Homo sapiens: one gene and its partner. The protein of the gene in region 1 interacts with the protein of each later gene in a pairwise test. Each region holds a gene or a part of one and is shown on either strand. Other genes may lie near its edges.

Evidence for each region. Proteins that work in one complex are often made in the same cells at the same time.
Region 2: the proteins of PRR20B (region 1) and ROR2 interact in a two-hybrid assay, tested with the Homo sapiens proteins (one large-scale study listed by BioGRID).

Annotation. Positions count from the first base shown.
Region 1 is NC_000013.11:57,145,740-57,150,661, reverse strand, and holds PRR20B (proline-rich protein 20B), read right to left. Parts: upstream 3,175-4,922; 5' UTR 2,961-3,174; intron 2,807-2,960; 5' UTR 2,788-2,806; coding exon 2,736-2,787; intron 1,715-2,735; coding exon 1,101-1,714; 3' UTR 153-1,100; downstream 1-152.
Region 2 is NC_000009.12:91,751,229-91,754,728, reverse strand, and holds part of ROR2 (tyrosine-protein kinase transmembrane receptor ROR2 isoform 1 precursor), read left to right. Parts: intron 1-3,500. UniProt on the Homo sapiens protein: Tyrosine-protein kinase receptor which may be involved in the early formation of the chondrocytes. It seems to be required for cartilage and growth plate development. Phosphorylates YWHAB, leading to induction of osteogenesis and bone formation.

The sequences.
Region 1 (4,922 bases):
ACTGGAGCCATTTTTCTACCTTCCTTTCTGCTTTTAGTAAACACATTTTGTATTTGCGATTTGTGAAAGTTTAGTGAAAGAACTGTTCTATAAAATAAGTCTGAAGAGAAAGGTTTATTTAGAAGGATTGAGTACACAAGAGAAAAATCTTTGATGTAAAAAGTTATCTGTATTTTATTTGGACGTTTACAAAGGAGTGAAAACCAGCCAACAACAGCCTACCTAATAAAATACAAAATACAAAAGTTCATAATACAACATTTATCAAACTCTGAAAAGATGGGAACTAACTCAACTTAAACATCTAAGAGACACCTACAGCCAACATCTTGGTTAATGGTGAAACATTCAAAATATTCCCATTAAAGCCAGGAGGAAGCCAAGGACACTGCCGTCAAATTACTGATTCCTGGTTTAGCGGTTCCAGTGAGTCATGCACTCTCCTTGCTTCCGTTAACCGCCCCCCCCCCCACCCCAACACCTTTTGTCTGATTCGTCACATGTCCTTTGATCCCCTTTTTCCTCAATCTGTTTGAAATTTTACCTTCTATTCCAATTCATTTAGTGGTTCCCAAAGGGTACCCACGTTGAGACTTAAAAATGTGTCAGTCTAGATTTTTATTGCTCTTATATTCAGCCAGTCTATCGTCTCCAGGCACTAGAGAAGCACTTTAGTAACTTCTAGCTCCTTCTGAGTTTTCGCATGTCCCACATGTCTATATGAGTGTCTTCTGGAATTTTAATTCTAGGTCATCAATCCTTTTTCCAGAATCGTACTTCTCTGGACTTAAGAATACAGTTTCCTAATTTCCATGCTTAGTGATCCTTGTTGCATCCCACTTCTTCCAGGTTGTCTGGGTTGGCTTCTTCTTGGCTGAAAAACGTGACGTGTACTTTCACTGTACATGACAGTTCCATTCCAATCGCCTTGTACAGAAAGGGTGTTTGGCAGCTTGCATGTTGTAAGTTGCGTACTCCAAGTTCAGGGGAAGCTCAGGCTTCAGGTCCAGTCGGGGGAGGAGTGGAGCAGAAGTGGGGCTGGGGGGAACGTCCAGGTGGAAGGAAGGGAGGCTGGGAACAACGTGGGTGGCAGATAGTGGTCAATACGCAATGTCGGTGAGGAACACTGGGACCCCTTGCACGTAGGTGCCCTGGGGGGTTTGAATGACTTGTAAAACCGCTGAGTCACCCAGAGCCCTAAACCCGATGCAGGGATAGAGGGTCAAGACGGGTTGCCAGTCAACAGCCTGAGGCCCAGGAGCAGCGGGCGGCTCCTGAAACCCCAGCTCAGGTTGCGCCACGTCGGGGCCAGGGCCTTCCTGCACAGTTCCAGGCGGAGGACCTGTTTCAGAAAGGGAGAAGGCTGCGGTCTCCGTGATTTCCGGTTCCCCCTGGTGGCCTGGCTCTCCATGGTGGTCCAGTTGGATGTGCACGTCCGGTGCCATCAAGCCTTCTGCCCCCTGTCTCTGGCCAGCGTCCCCGCGGGGCCCAGCCCTTCTGCCACGGCCTCGCCCTGGCCGCCGGCTTCCTCCCCGGCGCCGGCCTCTCTCTGCAGGAGGGGGTGACTCTGGGCGAGCTGGGGGCTGCCGTCTGAAGGGTTTCACGTAAGCGATGGGTTTTGCGGGTTGGGCTGGCTGTGCGGGCCCATCTGCTTCCACGGAGCCTTCAGGGTCCGCAACACAGCAGCCTGGCTCTGGAGGAGGCCCACCTGAGGCTAAAAGAGAAGCGGAGCGTGAGCAGAGAGAGACAGAAGGAACTTCACCCGTCAAGCAGTTATAGGATACTTTTACAAATAAATACTCAGAGAAAAGAGGGATTTCTGAAGTTAAAATTGTGAGAGAAGAAACAAAACTCTCCACGGAAGTTGGAGAATGAAGTTGAGAAGGTCTCCCACAGAACAAAGCAAAAACCTAAAATGATGGAAAGAAGGATGAAATATAAGAGAATTAGAGGTATGCTGTGGCTGAGACATTTCACCAGAAAATTTCAGAGTGCTGAGGAAAAAGAGAAGATTCTAACAGATTCTAGAGAGCGGGAGACAGAGAAAGGAAAAGTCACATGGAAAGGGCTAGGATTCCACATGTCTCAAAAGTCAGACATCTCAAAAGCAGCAGTTCAGTCTAGAACATAACAGAAAATGTCTTCGAAATTTCAAGGGAAATGAATTTCCCACCTAAAATTTCCTGTCCAACCGAAGTTTCGCTGAAGAATCTGGGAGGGGAGAATGAAGATGTTTCAGACAAGCAAGATGTTAAAGAATTTCCTTTCAGTGGATGCTTTATTGTTATGCATCTGTCAAACTAGACAAGATTAAAAGATTTAGGACACTCAGCGTATGAAGGGAAATGTTTTGGAGAACAACGTGGCAACAGCCGGAAAATTCCAACTCCTCCGGGAAAGAACAAGGTGGAAGTACCGGTTTATCATAGATCAAGACGTAGCGTGAGGACTCGCTCTGCTACGGAGAAACAGTAATACAAAACTAAACAGAAGGAAACAGCGACAACAACAGCAAATCTCAGATTTGGGAAATGGGATTACGGTTCGGAAGAGGGAAAGGAATTTCCCAGATGATGTGGAACCCGGGAGCTGACTTCCAACAAGCAGCCCAGGTTGAGGCAGGCTAGGAGAAGGTGAAACAGAGAATGCTTGATTGAGTTTGAGTGTCAACCATTGGGGAAGAATTGGGGAACAGACGAAATTAAAAAGAGAGGAGTGGCAGGCGTTTGATGTACCTTGATTAGGGGCCATGGAGCGAAGTCGCTTCGAAGGCCTTGGTTCCTCCATGAGCAATCGGCGGGAGGGGCTGGGGAGAAAAACAAGAGAGCAAGAACGGATTTAGGAAGACAGAGGTGACAAGGCAGGGGGATGGCCGTGGCCTTTCTAGGGGAATGAGGATTCTGTCCCCAACTGCACCCACCCGAGATCCGTCCACGCCTCCGGGACCCCCAGACACACACCTGATCTTCCCACAGCTGGCTCCGGAGATCTGAAAATTAGGAGACTCTTCGACGAAGAGAGGCCCGAGGAGTCGGAGGTGTCCACAGGTTCACCGCTGTAGCTCTGAGGTAGTCCACCCGCAGCCAGGGAGTCTGGAGGGAGCACGCAGCAGGTTCTGGCTCCGAGCCCAGCAGAAAGCCGACTGCTGGAGGCCGAGCGCCGTCCCTCTTATATGGCAGCAAGGCAGTCGCGTAAGGGACAGGCGTCGTCAGAGGGGGGCCGGCTGGGGCGGGCCTGGCTGGGCTTGCGAGGCGCATTGGGCCAGTCCCCTGCCAGTCAAATGGGGGCCCTTCTGAGATGCCGCCATTTCTAGACGTCCGTGGTTGATTGATTAATCTAATCATCGAGGAAAAAAAATTGCATAATGACCTCTGAGTGTCAGCACAATGAGGTGTGGTGCCCTGAAAGCGGCTGACAGGAAGATGCGATTAGCTTAGATCTGAGCATGGTCAAGGAAAGCATCCAAAGCGGGGATATCTGGGCTGAAATCTGGAACATAACGTTTGAAATTAGTCATCCTGAACCGGGTTGGGAGAGGCAGGGAGGGAGGAAGGGGAGTGAAGAGAGTGTGCTGAGGCCCGGACTGGAAGGGAGCCCGGCACATTCTGGGAATGGACGGGAGGCCAAGTCCAGGCCCGGAGGTGGTGCGAGGTGGAGGCAGGGTCCGCGCAGGAGCTGGTCTTGTTCCAAGGCAGCGGAAAACCGTGGAACGGTGTCCGGCAGCGGGTTAACATTTCAGAAACGACCAGCCTGGCTGTGAAGGAGCGCCAACCCAGGGTCCGCAGAATAAGTCAGGAGAGGCAAGAAGGCTATTGCAGCCCTCGGGGTTGGGCGCAGGGTGCTGTTAGACTGAGACTCAGGGAGGTAGAGGAGGAGAAAGTTCCCTGGTGGGAGAGAAATTTCCAAGAGAAAGCGAGACCCAGTGTGGACAGCCCTTGAGGAAGAGACTGCGGCCTTGGTAGCCCGCCGGTTCATTCAGGCAGAGGTGGACCGAGAACCTGCTCTGAACGGGAAGTTGCGGAGCTTGGCTTGCGCACATCTGGTTGAAGGGGCTTTTGAACTGCCAAGTGAGGATGTCAAGTGGCCTTTTGTAAAAAGAGTCGAGCTCAGCGCGATGGCGACGGGGCTGGAGATGCGTGTGAGACCCACACCGCTGGCTTTTATTGCTGTGGGTGCACTCACGGGTGGAGGAAGACAGCGGGAAACACAGCAGGACGCTGGAGGGGATCCCACAGTGGGTTATTTGGTTGGTTTGCATCCTTGTGTCTTTTACAGAGACGGGTTCTCGCTCTGTAGCCCAGGCTGGAGTGCAGCGGTGCCATCTCGGCTCGCTGCGGCTACTTGGGGTGGGGCGGGGGGGGGGGGGGGGCTGAGATAGGAGAATCAGTTCAAGTGATTCTCCTGTCTCGGCCTCCGGAGTAGCTGGACTACAGGTGAGCGCCACCACATCGGGATAATTTTCGGATTTTTTTGGAGAGACGAGGTTTCGCTATGTGCCCAGGCTTGTTTGGAAGGCCTGAGCTCAAGCCGTCCGTCCCGCTCAACCTCCCGAGTCGCTGGGACCCCAGGCGCAAGCCACCATGCCCGGCCAATTATTTTTTTGGGTTGTATTTCCTGTTGAAGTGAGGTTTTGCTATGCTTTCACCTCACATACCTTTTCTGTCCCAAGACCCCATCCAGGGTACCACCTTACAACTCGTCACGGTTCCCCTTGGCTGCGACGGTTTCTCACACTTGCCTTGTTTTTGATGACCCTGACACTTTGAATACTGATCAGATATATTGTGGGATGTCCTCTCCTGAAGTTCGTGTGATGTATTCCTTGTGATCTGACTGGAATTATATGTTTTTGTCAGGAAGATTGCAGCGGGAAAGCGCCATTCCCATCCCATCCTGTCTAGAGTACACACCATCAAGCCGGC
Region 2 (3,500 bases), on another chromosome or scaffold:
GTCATTTCAAAAGTTGAACTATTGTTCTCTCTTATTTTATATTTATGTCTTTTATTTTAGTTATTTTATTTTTTGAGACAGAGTCTCGCCCTGTCACCCAGGCTGGAGTGCAGTGGTGCAGTCTCCGCTCACTGCAACCTCTGCCTGCCAAGTTCAGGCAATTCTCCTGTCTGAGCCTCGAGTAGCTGAAATTACAGATGCGCACCACCATGCCCGGCTAATGTTTGTATTTTTAGTAGAGACGGGGTTTCACCATGTTGGCCAGACTGGTCTCGAACTCCTGACCTCAAGTGATCCGTCCACCTTGGCCTCCCAAAGTGCTGAGATTACAGGCATGAGCCACTGCACCCGGCCTATATTTATGTATTTTATAAATAAAACTTTTATAGTTCATTTATATATAGTTACATAAATATATTATGTAACTATATAATATATTGTAAATACATAACATATAATTACAGAGCTATAATTATACAAATATTAAACATTCATATATTTATATACAAATTGTAAATATATATATTTATATAAATTATTTCACAATATTTTTACATTGACTTTCTTCTCACTTTAAGTTATGGATTTAATCCACACATTGATGTAAATGACTGGGGCAGTTTCGGAAAGTCCCGCCTGACCTCCCATCCTTCCAGGCCTCCTGCCTCCCTTGTCATAAAGGTAAATCATCCAGGGAGTTTGTAGGCACTCAGTACATACATACATCTACCTAAGGAAATACAAAACAATCAACTTGAAAAAAGGTCTAAAAGCACATAAATTACTCAGTATTATTGAGGCAATGAAGAAATATGCTTACCTATACACTATTGATGAGAAATTTCTGGAGTGCTATTTGACAATAAACACAAAAATATTTTTAAAAAGAAATACCTCTTATCAGTTTTATATACTTTTTTACATAAATGATGCTATACTTGACATGTTTAGTTAACAGTATTCACAGAAATCTTTCCATCTCAGTGTATTTGAGGTTTCCAGATGCTCTCTTTCCCTGTTTCTGGACTCATGTGCAGAGCATGTGACTGTTCCATTGTGACAGGCATTCCCATCAGGGAAGCCTCATCCCAGCCACTCGTGCCACCGCGTCTCCCTTCCCTGGCCCTGAGACCTGTGGCTGGGTTTCTCTAGGAGAGATTCTGAAGAGGAAAAACTAAAGGGGCACAGGCATCCCCTTTTTAAAACTGATACTGCCAAATGGTCATTCGTAGGTTACTTTCCCGACAACGTCAAAGGACCCATTTCTCCTTATCTTCCATAAGATGACTTCCAAACTTGTTAACTTCTGCCACTCTGAAGGATGAAAAATGAATAAATGACCTGCTTTGTTCTCCATTTCCCTGGTTACTAGTGAGGCTGAGCATGTGGACACACATTGCTTGGCACTCATGTCTCCTCTTTGTCAATTGCCACTTCATATTCTTCGCTCATTTTTCCTTTACATTGTTTCTTAATGAATTTTGATAATTCTTTATGTCTTATTTCTTGATCATATAGAAATTAAAACTTTTACAAATTAATAATTTGTTTTTCATGTTATGTCTTGTTAAAGAATGTCATGATTTCCTTGAAAGATTCTGATGGTAGTTTGATTGGAATTACAATGAATTTTTAGGTCAGTTTGGTGAGAATTAATATCTAAATTGAATTTTCTTATCAAGGACTACTTTCCTTTGTGTTTTGAGGTGTTTTCTTTTTCTTAACATTTTATAATGAAAAATTTCAAACATACGGTTGAAAGAATTTTATAGTGGGCTCCTGTATACTCACCAGCTAGATGCTAGCATTTACATTTTACTGTGCTAACTTTATCACTTATCGTTCCATCCAGCCTCCATCTGTCCATCAATCCATCTGATTTTTCATTCATTTCACTGAGTTGCAGATACTTGTACATTTACCCTGAAATACTTCAGCATATATATCATTAATGAGAGTTCAGTATCTGTTTATGATTCTTGCTCCTCCTTCTTCAGTTAAAATTTGCATACCAGTGAAATGCACACATCTTAAGTATAGCACTATAAGGTCTGACAAATGCATAAATCTCTGCAATCGAAACACCCTATCCAGATACAGAATCTCTGTCACGCTTGCAGGCTCTGTCGTGCAACTTCCTAGTCAACTCCCTTCTACCCCAGGCACCCACTATTCTGATTTTTTAAGTAATGGACTAGTTTTTCCTGTTATTAAACATCACAGAAATGAAATCCTTCAGGATGTAGCCACTTAAGCCTGGCGTCCTTTTAGCATAGTGCTTTTGAGATTCATCTGTGTTGTACATGTATCAGTAGGTTACAGCTGTTTATTGCTGAATAGCATTTTATGGTATGAACATACGCGTTGATTTATCCATTCTCCTGTTGAAGGACACCTAAGCAGATTCCAGGCTTGACTACTATGAATAAAGTTCCTTGTATAGGAATACTCTATACTTTTTGTGGACATGCATTTTCATTTCTGTTAGTGTTAACTAGGCGTAGAATTGCTGCATTATAGGGCATGTGTGTGCTTAATTTTATAAGACATTCCTGGGCCTTCTCCTGAACTCTTTTTACCTCCACCCACAGTGTGGGAGACTTGTGATGACTCCACATATTTCCCAACATTGGTGTGGTCAGCCTTTTTAAGTGTAGCTATTCCGGTGTATGCAGTGATTCAAGTGATTTTTTATATCATTCCAGCCTCTTGAAAAAGCAATTTTTACTAGTCATTTTTAAATTTTCAAATAAATGTATTTAAAGCTGTAAAGTTTCCTCTGAATACCATCTCCCTGCTTCCACCACGCATTTAGGCTTCTGTTGTTTGATACTGTTTTCTGATTTTTGTTGCATTATTATTAGTGAATATGGGCTGTTTATGTTTTATTCTTGATAATTTATTGAGATTTTTCTTTGTAACCAGTTAGATACGGTCCATTTTTGTGAATCTTGCCTGTTGTTTCAAAAATACGTGTGCTTTGATGTATCTGCACATTTCTTGACTCATCTGTGAGATTGAGTATTAAGTATGTTATTAAAAATATCTATATATTTTTTATCCACATGAGTACCAGATACCTGAAGATTTGTGAAAGTCACCCACACTCAATCTGGATTTGCTAGTTTCTATTAGTTCTCTATTTTTAATATTTTGTGTGTATTTTAAGGTTATATAGGTTTTTGTGGGGTTTTTTGGTTTCTTTTTACAGTCCCTTTTAGTGCTTTTTGCCTTGAATTCAGTTTTGCCTAACAATAATAGAGTTCCACATGCTTTTTAAATTTGCATTTGCCAGGAACCGTTTTTATGATTCCTGTCCCACTCTTTAGTCTTTCACCTTTTTGTGTTCTGTTTTATGTAGGTCTCTTGTAAATGATGCATAACTAGACTTTTTTTGGGAGGTTGATGTGGAGACCTTTCCAGTCTGAAAGTCCATGTTAATACATAGTTAAATTCATTTTAACTAATATACAGTATTCCATTCTGTGAGTCAGTTTCCA